Linked DNA regions of Homo sapiens. The protein of the gene in region 3 purifies or fractionates together with the protein of the main gene of each other region. This does not show direct contact. Each region holds a gene or a part of one and is shown on either strand. Other genes may lie near its edges.

The links. The genes of interacting proteins can lie anywhere in the genome.
Region 1: the proteins of SLC25A48 (region 3) and EIPR1 purify together in Homo sapiens (affinity purification with mass spectrometry; one large-scale study listed by BioGRID and IntAct). This does not show direct contact.
Region 2: the proteins of SLC25A48 (region 3) and HELZ purify together in Homo sapiens (affinity purification with mass spectrometry; one large-scale study listed by BioGRID and IntAct). This does not show direct contact.

The regions. Positions count from the first base shown.
Region 1 is NC_000002.12:3,255,819-3,259,318, forward strand, and holds part of EIPR1 (EARP and GARP complex-interacting protein 1), read right to left. Parts: intron 1,638-3,500; coding exon 1,481-1,637; intron 1-1,480. UniProt on the Homo sapiens protein: Acts as a component of endosomal retrieval machinery that is involved in protein transport from early endosomes to either recycling endosomes or the trans-Golgi network.
Region 2 is NC_000017.11:67,186,197-67,189,696, reverse strand, and holds part of HELZ (probable helicase with zinc finger domain), read left to right. Parts: coding exon 1-108; intron 109-1,080; coding exon 1,081-1,378; intron 1,379-3,500. UniProt on the Homo sapiens protein: May act as a helicase that plays a role in RNA metabolism in multiple tissues and organs within the developing embryo.
Region 3 is NC_000005.10:135,833,209-135,837,462, reverse strand, and holds the start of SLC25A48 (solute carrier family 25 member 48), read right to left. Parts: upstream 2,801-4,254; 5' UTR 2,616-2,800; coding exon 2,570-2,615; intron 2,422-2,569; exon of another isoform or gene 2,198-2,421; intron 1-2,197.

The DNA.
Region 1 (3,500 bases), on a different chromosome or scaffold from region 3:
ATGTGCACACATACGTGTGCACAGAGACACAAGCACAAATGTGTGCACATGTGCATCACACACATGCGCACAAATGTCTATTTGCTGGGGATGTGGCAATCATTTGAAATGTGGAACTCCTAACAGTGCTGTGTGGTTTGCACAGAGATCCTGCATTCGGGCGGGGAGTGACAGCAGTGGCAATCACTCCTGGGGACTTTGGGACTCTTCATCTGCCTCCCCTTACTGTGCAAGACTGGCTGTGATTTTAATACTCAGAGCATCTCCGTAAGAAGAAATATCCACCGACGTGGTAGAAGCACAGCAAGTATAAAAATAATTCCACCACAAACTGATACACAGAGAGCATCCGGAGCCACAGACTGCCTGACCCTCAGCACTGCTCTCCTCCATACCTGACGAGGGAAACCTGAGTCGGTCCTCAGTCCCCGTTCCAAACTCCACCTCGTAAGCGAATCCCTCTTCAATTCCTCTAATAACAATTAATGGCTGCTCCTTCCGGGGCCACAGCGTACAGTTCGTAATGATTTCGGGGTACGCCACGGCTGGCCCAGCCACAGTTAGTTGTGTACACCCTGGGTCTCCCCGTGGAGATCATGACTCTCGGAGGCCGGGCCCTCTAACTTGTCACCTTGGTGTCCCTGGAGCCTGGCAGGGTTTCTGTAGCAGGTATTTAATAAGTATTTGTTGTATTAAATTTATTTAATTGGTAGAACTGACGAGACAGAAGTCACTGTACAAACGATTTGTCTCTTGCAGACACACACGCACATGTGTATGTGTTAATGCATTAAGTAAAACAATCACTATCGTTATTGTAAACACTCATAACAACAGTATGCCCCCGCAATCTCCTTTAGAAAATACGGCTTCTTAATTTTTACCAAGGCCTCAGGGCCTTCAGAGAGCAGCTGTGACTGCCGTGGAGAGGTCCCTGGGAATGACCAGTGGGTGCACACAGCCAGGCCTCCAAGCTCATGAAGCAGCGACTGGCCAGGGAGCCACGTGAATGACACACCACATGCCGGACACGGGCGGGCTTGGGCACGCAGCCCCACAGGCACACCACGCATTCATGCTTTGTCCACGGGAGGAAGGGATTGTAAGCCTCAACCTGAAGTGGTAAATAATTGCCATGTGAGTGTGAATAAGTGCATGCTGACCAAGCTGAAAAGCCACACAGCGCTCGAGGGCAGTGCAGTGCCTGACCCTTTACCCTCTGGCAGGTCCCCACGGGCAACACTCCTCTTAGATGAAGAGGAGAAAGTGGGGATGCAGGCGCGCTGGCTACATTTCTGTCAATGCGGCTAATCTAGAAAACACAGGGACTAAAATTAAAAATCAAATTCTCGCAGCTTTTTAAAAGAAAGGAGCGTTTCCGAGGTGTGGACGGTGGCTCCTGCAAAGGAATCTGCACAAGCTCCTGCACCTGGCCAACCTGCAGGCTCGTTCTGGGCGCATGAAATATGCAAAATCCTACCAGGCCATGTTGCCATGGGCTGTGTTGTCAAGGTGACAGAGCAGCTCCAGGGTCTGTGCAGTGCTGGATGAATCATCAGGGGACTCGTGGCTGCCTGATTCCAATTCCTTCGGCATCCTCCACACGGCTGCACATGTCAGGACTTTGCTGTCTGAAGCTGAGCAACAGAGCATAATGGATAATGTCAACAGAGCACGGTGTGCCCCGCATTCTGCAGACAGCACACGCACATTTACACAAATCCATAAGCAGCGCGCATCTGCTCTTTAAAATATGTACGATTGCAGGCAGCAAAGACGGAGCAGGGAGAAGCACAGCCTGAGTCGGCAGGCAGAACCCGGCACGGTTCGTAATCAGCATCCTGTTCCCCACTTTCTCTTTGTTTTAAAAACCATCATGCTGTTTCAAAAGAAAATTTAATTTCCTCAAAATCGATTTCCTTCCGTTCTTCTTCAATAGTTCTTCAAAAAAGGGAGCAAAATGGGGGACTAAAGATATAATCACCACGCACGCAGCTGGTGTCTAAGGTTGGCATTAAACGGGTTTTCTCTCCATAGCTGTATGAGATCACCTTAAATGACTATTAGGCACACTGAGCGATATTCCATTCGGAAATCCTGTCACGCATGTTATTCTGCCTCAGTTTACCTAAAGTGATGAGTATCTGGGACCGGAAGGTAATGCCATTCAGAGGCATCGCATGCTGAGGCCTGGAGCCCTGGTGGGCAGCAGGTGGCAGCCCAGCCTGGTCATGTCACCATCAATACAGCCTCTTCTCCTAGAAATGAGAGTGCCATCCTTACACGATCCTGCTGGTGGCTGCTCGGTCTCCCTGAGTCTTGATACTCTATTTTCAAGATGCTCCAGGAATCTAGAGTACCTAGAAAAGCCACTTTGTGGATAGAGACTCAACCTGCATTAGAAAGACTGGGGTCACTTGTTTCCAAGGAAGGTCTCTGATGCTCTAGAAAATTTCTCAATATGATAAATTTTTTAAAAATTAGATTTAACATTGAATTCTTGAACATAAATCCTTTCAGAATTTGCTTTCCATTTAGTTTTCAATTGAATATGTGCTAAACACCTCTCCCTTTTAAAGATGGCCTTTAATGAATAATCATAAACTAGCAAACAGGATTCAACATTAAATCATCAATTGATAACAAGTGAAGAACATAAAAATATTATATATTGCGTTAGAACATAAAAAAACATTTCATGGGTAGTACAAGAAGGAAAACAGCATGGCATTACAAAATAACAACGACCTTAGGTTACAATCGAAAATGTATCACTTACTGGTGATGATGCTCTTGCGATCTCAATATCAACTAATCGACCAAGCAATATAGCAACGAACTCAATGACAAAATATCTAACTTTGTGAATATTATTAATACCATTGTTAACCATGATTGAATGATAAGAAGTTAAAAGATTAAGACTTCAACCAGGATTTTCTGATTCCAAATTCAGTGACCATTTTATATACCATATTGGGTCTAAAAGAACATGCAATTATGGCTTAAAGAAAAAAAACTCCATCATATATTCATATAATGTTCACACTTCCAACTTTACAAAAATGGAGTGTACAGACAGTTCTGTCTACAAGGGAATTTTATTTATTTATTTATTTATTTATTTGCTGAAATTTTCAGTTACACGATCTTTCTGCAGAGCCCACGAGATTGGCAATGGCACTCCTGGAAACACAAAAATAACCAAAGGGAAAGTTGGCAATTTGGAGTAGGAAAGAAAAAAATGAATGCCTAACCCACTAGCACACACTAACCCAACAGAGGTGTAGATTATCTTAATCTTTCTAAATGGTAGAAAAATACATGTCTAATCTTACAAGTTATAGAACTAATAATGGGAGCACTAAATTGTGGCTGCACTTCAAAATGAATGAAATACACAAGATGACAAAGGCAGGGAATAGTAAAAACAGCTATTCTGTGGAAGAAATGACTAATGGCAGACACTCCCCCCCACATCCCCAACAAGTTCCTTCTTT
Region 2 (3,500 bases), on a different chromosome or scaffold from region 3:
CTTAGTGAATGTATAGAAGGAGTAAAGGTAGAGCACAATCCTGACCTGTCAGTTACTGTCAGCACCAAAAAATCCCACCAGACATGGACCTTTGCTCTCACTTGTAAGGTATGAATTTTGTGCTAGTTAAAGCATAAAAGTTGTGTTTAATTTTCTGAACGTTTTTTTGACCTTTGAATCTCTGTGTTAAAGAATATTGAAAATATTTTAATCTAAGTACATTATATATAGGTTCTATATTGTACTAAAGTATATTTCTGTACTTTGATCATTAAAAGTACAATTTTAAAAATACTTTTAGATGAGATCTTTGTAGATATTTAGGGTGCTTTCATATTTATTTATTTGGTAAAGAGATCTTTGACATATTGTCTTCTAAACTTGGGACATAGGATGGGGTTCATGGCTTGTAATTAACTACTTAAAAATTGTTTATTCTAGTAGTTCTAAGATTTTTAAACCATAACAACTTGTTTTTATATTTGATATGATGAAGTCACAAATTCTGTGATAATGGGTTTTTAATATGGGGCATTTTCTGCAGTGCTTCCCATCTTAAATTATAGTAGTCAAAGTTTAAGATCGAAGCAAAGTAAAAAGTTTCTGTGAGTATGCTCAGTGGAAAAGTTTTTGTCTTTTTTGTGGCATTTCTTCTGCTGTACTTTCTGTATCTGGAGATGAAAAATCTAAGAACAGTTAGCTTCAGCCTTGAACCCAATCCAGTGCTTTCAGAGGTAACTGCCCTCTTACGAAGGCTTCCTACTTGAGGCTACATGAAACTTCTGTAGGTGAAGAGTATGGAAAGTTTGAAGGTTGATGGTTATATAGGGTGATAGCTTTTGCCACAGTGAAAAATGAACATGTCACAGGAAGAGAAGGGAGGCTAGCGATATAGCATAAATAAATAATTTTAACAACTGATTTTAAAAAACCATTCTGATTTTTTTCTTAAATGGCTATAGTATCTTAGAAGCTTGGGGAAGTAAAAGTCCCTTATGGAAATATTTTCATTGAAGAGCCCAATTACAATTGGATTTTTCACCCCCTTGTACTCAATGAATTATTTTAACTTCCTTGTAGCCTGCAAGAATGCTGTATCGTGTAGCATTGCTTTATGATGCTCATCGTCCTCATTTTAGTATCATTGCAATATCTGCCGGAGATAGTACTACCCAGGTATCACAAGAAGTCCCAGAAAACTGTCAAGAATGGATAGGAGGAAAGATGGCCCAAAATGGATTAGATCATTACGTGTATAAAGTCGGGATAGCATTTAACACAGAAATATTTGGAACTTTTCGCCAAACCATAGTTTTCGACTTTGGATTGGAACCAGTACTCATGCAAAGAGTAATGATTGATGCAGCTTCTACAGAAGGTAATATTTAGACTTTTTTCCCCCGATACAATGTGTTAAAAAGCAACATTCAAAGATATGTATTGGCCCCTGAATATATTCCATGGATAGGAAGAGAATAGTAATAAAGAAAAAAATCCCAACTTAATTGACTCATTTACTGTGTAATGGGCTTATAATGATTCACACTGTGCCCTGATTTCTTCACAGAGCCACCAGGTAAAGCTTGAACTTTGAGGTTCCCCAAACTTGTATGAGTAGATGATCAGACCTGTTTTGGTCTACCAGTTTCATTTCACAGTAAGATGGTTTTAGCACAGTAATATCTTTCAATATTAGTTTGGGTAGAATATCATTTTAATGGTAATTGTGTATATACCTACAATGTTTATTTTCATGTCCTATTGACTAGTTAACTTTGCTGATGTTAGTACATTGTTTCTGAATGAAAAGTCTTGAGTATAATAAGCCTTCATAAATCAGTTTGTGCATCCACTAGTGTTAAGGAGGCCAAGGGTGCCTTTAATCAAATCTGCTCTTTGTTTTTGGGAAGAGGTCCCTGGTTTCATCATGTAAGCATGACATAAGGAATTACTTTGTACATTGTCAATTTATTGCCTATATCTAAATTTTATGCCAAGATCCAACAGGACAAAGAAAGGACATGTTAGCCCACATTTCCTTTGCTCTTGGTTGGATTTATAGGTGTTCTATTCTATTTAACAAAAACTTTTTATTTAACAAACACTTCAAAAAGCAGAGCTGTGTGAAACTTGCTTTTGTATTGACTATAACTAACCATATTGTGGAGGACGTTTTTTACTATGTACCATAATGTCCCATTCATGAGAACCTAGAAGTAGTTTTTCTCATTAGCGAATGCTAGAATTTTATTTTTTTTCACATAGTGAAAAGGTGAAATTGGTCTGTCTTCCTCTTTACTTTAGCTGCTAGTAAGGTTGAAACAACGATGGTGCCCAAATTTAACAGTTAGGTGACATCTTCTTCTACGTGTGCTAAGATTACCCAGACTTCACTTTACCCTTATTTCCCACTGACTTTGATCCCTTTTACTTGTTTTTATTCTGTAGTATGTATTTTTGTCATCTTTTCAGTACTCTTTGGAATCAGAATAAATTAATTTCCATAGCTAAATAGATATGGTAGTTGATAAAATAAAAATAAAGTATTTGGCTTATATATATTAGCATAGTATTTGGCAAATTCTTTCTGCAGAGGGCCAGACGGTTAATATTTTAGGTGTTGCAGGGCAGGTGATCTCTGTTGCAACTACTCAGCTCTGCGTCGTAATGAGAAAGCAGCCATAGACAATGCATAAGCAAATGGGTGTGACTGTGTTCCAATAAAACTTTATTTTCAAAAACAATGGCTACATTTGACTTTCGTGTTGTAGTTTGCCTACCCCTGAACTAGTAAGTTGCTTTTAGAGACCAGACCTTGAGAACCACTAAGCAGCATCCTTTTTAAATCATAAAGAGATTTAAGTCATAAAGAGAGAACAACATACATTTCCTACTCTCAAATATAACTGTAAAGGATGTTCTTGGCTTACATGTGGGTTGTATTTTAGAAATTTGCTTGTAGGTTAGTGGCTTATAACTCAGACTCCTTTACCCATAGAAATGTTTGTAAGTGCTGTCAAGAATTCTTATTAGTTAGTAAAATATTTAATTAATAATATAAAATGTTAAATGTCTGCAGTAAAATGTAAAAGAACGATAGTATTAAAACATGATAATTAGAAAAGGTGGTGATGAAAAGGAGCTCAGGGTACTTTCATAGGCTTGAGAAGAGTAAAAGTACTTTGACTACTTCTGCCTCAGATACGAGTTACTTTTCTTGTTGGAGAAGAGCAGAGGACAAAAATCAGAGTCAAATAGAATAGGATTTGAATCCTGATTTTCGACTTATTGCCTGTGTGAGCCTGGGCAGAGTACTTAACTTCTCTGGGCTTCACGGGGAAACATCTGTAAAATGGGGCTAGTAATACCTGTCATAGATCATTGTGACAACCTGAAGCCTCGTACGACATCAGGCTCATAGTAGACGTTTAGTTAATAGTAGCTATTATGTTTATAATTAGCCTTGATTAGGATAATTTCTGGCTTATACACAAAAGGAA
Region 3 (4,254 bases):
TCTTCAAAGACAAATTCCCGAGAACACTGAGGAGGAAGGAAATATCTGTGTTAGTAGAGGTGATTTAACCAGGTAGCTAAGGGCTCCTGGAATATTAGATATTTATAGGGACAAAGAAACCAGCTAATCCCAGAACAATGATTCCCTGGGTCCAGAACCACCTGTCCCCTCTTATCCCCTCCTACCTACTAAACTGGGCAGAGGCAGAGAGGTGATGGCAGTAATTAACCCTTCCCAGTAGTGGGGGGAGGTGCGCTGGTCCTCAGGCTCCATGGCTTCCCCCATAGTGAGTGCACACATCCTTCAGCTCAGGGCAGGCTTAGATCCAGCCTTGGGCCAACATCTCCCTGCCACTTATTAGCCCACCCATCTGAAAGCAGGGGATTTGAGATTTAAAAAAATGGGATTATAAGGTCAGTGATTTCCAGACCTTGGCACTTCACAAACCAGTAAAATCTCAAACAAAATGTGTGTGTGTGTGGGGGGGGGGGGTGGGGGGGGGGATAATATCAAAAAAAGGGCAAAATTTTGTTATGCAAGGTTGTTCAGAAAGAGTTAAGATGAAATTAAGATGGCAGATTCTGGTGCCAGGCAGCCTGGGTTGGAATCCTGGTGCCAATGCTAGATGCATGGTCTTAGGCAAGTCAGTGAATTTCTCTGTATCTCAGTTTCCTCATCTGTAAAATAAGGATGCAACGGTACCTACCTCTTTGGGGTTGTTATAATAATTAAAGAACTATACATAAACTGACACAAGAGATCACATATTGCAAGATTCAATTGACATAACATATACAGGAAAGGCAAATTTACAGAAAGGAGATTAAGGAGAGGGAACAGCATTCAACTTCAAATGAGGGATCTTACTGGGGGATGAAAATGTTCTAAAACAAATTTATGGTGATGGTTGCACCTCTTTGTAAAATTACTAAAAGACATTGAATTGTACATTTGAAATGGGTGAATTTTATAATACATAAAATAAACCTTGATAAAATTGTTTTAAAAGAATACATATAGCACTTAAACTATACCTGGCACCTAGTAAGTATTCAAGTGTAGTAAACACTTACCATCATTTCATGGAAGCCAAAAAAAAAAAAAGCCATGTTATTAGTTTGGTGCAAAAGTAATTGCGATTTTTGCCATTACTTTCAATAACATCACCAAAGTAAGGACCAGAATAAAGCACAAAAATCCCCTACTTGCTGTGAGTCGGGGAGGGTTCACATGTTATCACGTTTGGGGATGGGGAGGGGTATCAGAGTCTTGGAACTACTCTGACTCAGCCCTACCTTCCAGGGCATTTTTCAAACCAAGCCATTTGCATCCCTACCGAAGGTGGTCTGCTTATTTAAGGGGCAGCCCACGGAAGTGTCTCCTCTCTCTGCCTGCCCCGCTGAATGGTGGAATAATTGTCCAGTCAAAAAGGACCTGGATATGCCCAGCGGGCCTCAGGCTGCAGCCCCCTAACTGGGAAAGTTAGGAGAGGCGGGTCTCAGCCCCACCCAAGGGCATCTGTGCCAACAGACTTACTCAAGGTGAAAGGAGCCACCTCTGCTCAGGAAGGTGTGAAGCAGGGCCCTGCAGCCACCGGTCTCGGGAGAGAGGTGGTCTCCTGCTAGGTAGGAGGGGAGGAGTTGGGATCCAATCTGGTTTGTTGTTCTTTTCATCTTATTTTTTCACCCCTTTGGTGAGGGGCTACATTTGCCAACATCCCTTTTAGGATAACCCTTTTAGATGGGTCCAAAGAAAGACTTTTTTTTTTTTTTTTTTTTTTTTTTACAATTAGCAAAGTCCCTCAAACTTCCCCCTTTCCTAATAGCTGAGAAAAGAGGGATAGACCAATTGGAAAGAAAAATGGAGAAGCAAGGAAATGAATGCAACTCTCGCCCAGGCAACCCATCCCAGGCCCAGTAAAAGAGTGGCTTCGGGAGCTGTGGCGAAGGGATCAGCAGACCCAACAGTGCCCGGAGAAGGGGCCTTGGAGGTAGGCGATGGCTGACGGTTGGCGGCGGCTGAAGGCAATAAGTGCTCCTCGCAGCCTGGCAATGGGCACCTGCAGCCGGCGCTCCGCTCCCTGCTGTGAGAGCTCTGCTCCCTCCAGTCGGGACGCCCCGTTGGGCCGGCCTAATCTCGAAGCCTGGCTCCCACCACCCTGCGCCCCGGGATCAGCAGCCAAGCGCTACCCTCATACATAAGTTCCCGCGAGCCACGTCCGCAATTCAGGTGTGCACCAGGTCACTGAAGGGTGTGTGCGCCGCCAGGAGCCTCCATTGGCTGTGGGCTTTGACGAGCTGTTTAATCATTACCTCATCAAGTCCCACGGATCCTAACTTAATGAGCAAATCAGAAGCTCAGCCCGAAACGCTGTGAAGCTCTCAGAATTTAGCCCTGGCAACTGCAAGACCACCAGGGGGATCTCGGGGCCGGGCACTCCCCAAAGCAGGCTGCGCGCACAACGGGGAGCGGGATGGCAGCGCACAGAGGCAAAGTTTCCTCAGAGCATAGAGGCAAACTCCGCCAGGCTCGCTCTCTCTGACCGGGGGTCCCCGGTAAGCACACTCACCTCCGATCCAGCCCGCCGCAAAGTCTTCCAGCTGGAAGCTTCCCATGGCCGGCGCTCGGTCTCGCCCTCCCGGAGCCGGGGCAGTGCCCACTTAGAGTCAGTGGGGCATGGCCCGCGGGCGCGAGCGCGCCGCAAGACCGAAGTCGGAGTCTCGAGCACGCCGCAGGTCCTACTCCAAACCCAGTCCCCCAGTCACCGGCTGCGCGGGCTGCCGCGCTCACCTCTCCAAGTGCCGGAGGGCGGCTGACATCACGCCCCCAGTGGACCTTAAAGGCACAGCACTCTGGGTGGATAAGGGTGCGCTCCGCGCGGCTCATCCCAGACACAAAGAGGCAAGGGTCATCAAGTGAAATTCTCTTAGTCCTCCCTTCTCCGGGTTATCCTCTTCCTTGCCAACTTCAGAGCCTCAGCGCCTTTGAACTGAAAGTGCCAGCCGCCCATCCAGAGACGGCAATGCGCGTATCTCCCTGTACTGTGCTGTGCTGACAATGCTGATTCCAATCAGCTGTGGACTCTCTCCCATCCCAACTCTGGGCAGTGATGCCTTTTTGTTCATCTCAGCCATGTCCCACTCAGTACCCCGTGCCTAGAGCAGGCACCTGGTGGTTCAGGGTCATGTCTAACTTTCAGCTACAGCTCTCTAGGGGCCCAGCTCCCTGCCTGGCCCTGGCTCACCCTACACTGTCCGCCCTGGGCCAACAGAAGGCAGAGGTGGTGCTCTGTACCTCAAACTCCCTCTCTGTAGGCAGACCCTACATTCAGCCAGGCCCCAGGCCAGGGGTCCGTGCTCACTGGAGAAGTGGCCTGCTGTGCGGAGAGGCTTTTGATTACAATGAGAGTGTCTTTCCTCCCTTCCTAAGAAGACTCGAAGCCCCCCAGCGTTCTGCTAGTTTCCAGCAGGGACTCAGCTGTGGGTCTCAGCCAAGACACCCCAAGGTTGACAAGAATGGTGAAGGGTATGGTCAGGAGGAAGGGGCCTCTGCTGGGCCTGCTCTTGTCCCACTGGGCATATTCATGTCACGTCATCCAGGTTAATATGAAGCGACAGCCAGCCAGACCTCCTTCTTCCAAAGCAAGACAGAGCCTGACCACCGAAGCTTGATCCTACAAAGGCCTGTCCACTGAGGAGTGGGGACTTGGAGGTGAAGGGACCTTCCTGCAGCATCACTCCCTCCCCTGCCCCGGCACACAGAGAGTGGACCTGTATCGGGAGAGGACAGCCCGGGATGGAGTCGCCGGCCTGGCTAGGGAAGTATTGCAAAGTTCCAGGGAGGAGTGGAAGCATCACACCCCATCCCGGCACCTCAACTTCCTGCTGCTTATGGTGACCCACTCAGTCTTGAGGCTTCAGAGTTGCCATCAGCATCAACCCCAAGCTGTGCCCTGTCATGCCCGGGATATATGCCTAGGGCTGCTATGAGAAATGCAGGTCTCTGAAGAGTGGCCTTTTACTGAGTTCACCATTGGAATGCATCCACAAGTGGAAAGCCTGACAATTCTCAAAACCCACTCCTCTGGAAGACCACCTAAGGGGTGCCAGGCAGTTTGTCATCCCCTCAGTCCTGTGTCAGCACCAATTGAGGAGGTCTTACGTTGGCAGGCAGTGTCCCTGGCAGCCCAGGATGGCCTCCCAGGCCCAGAAAGCTGCTGCTTGAACTACTAACGAGCTGGAGCAGAGCAGGAGT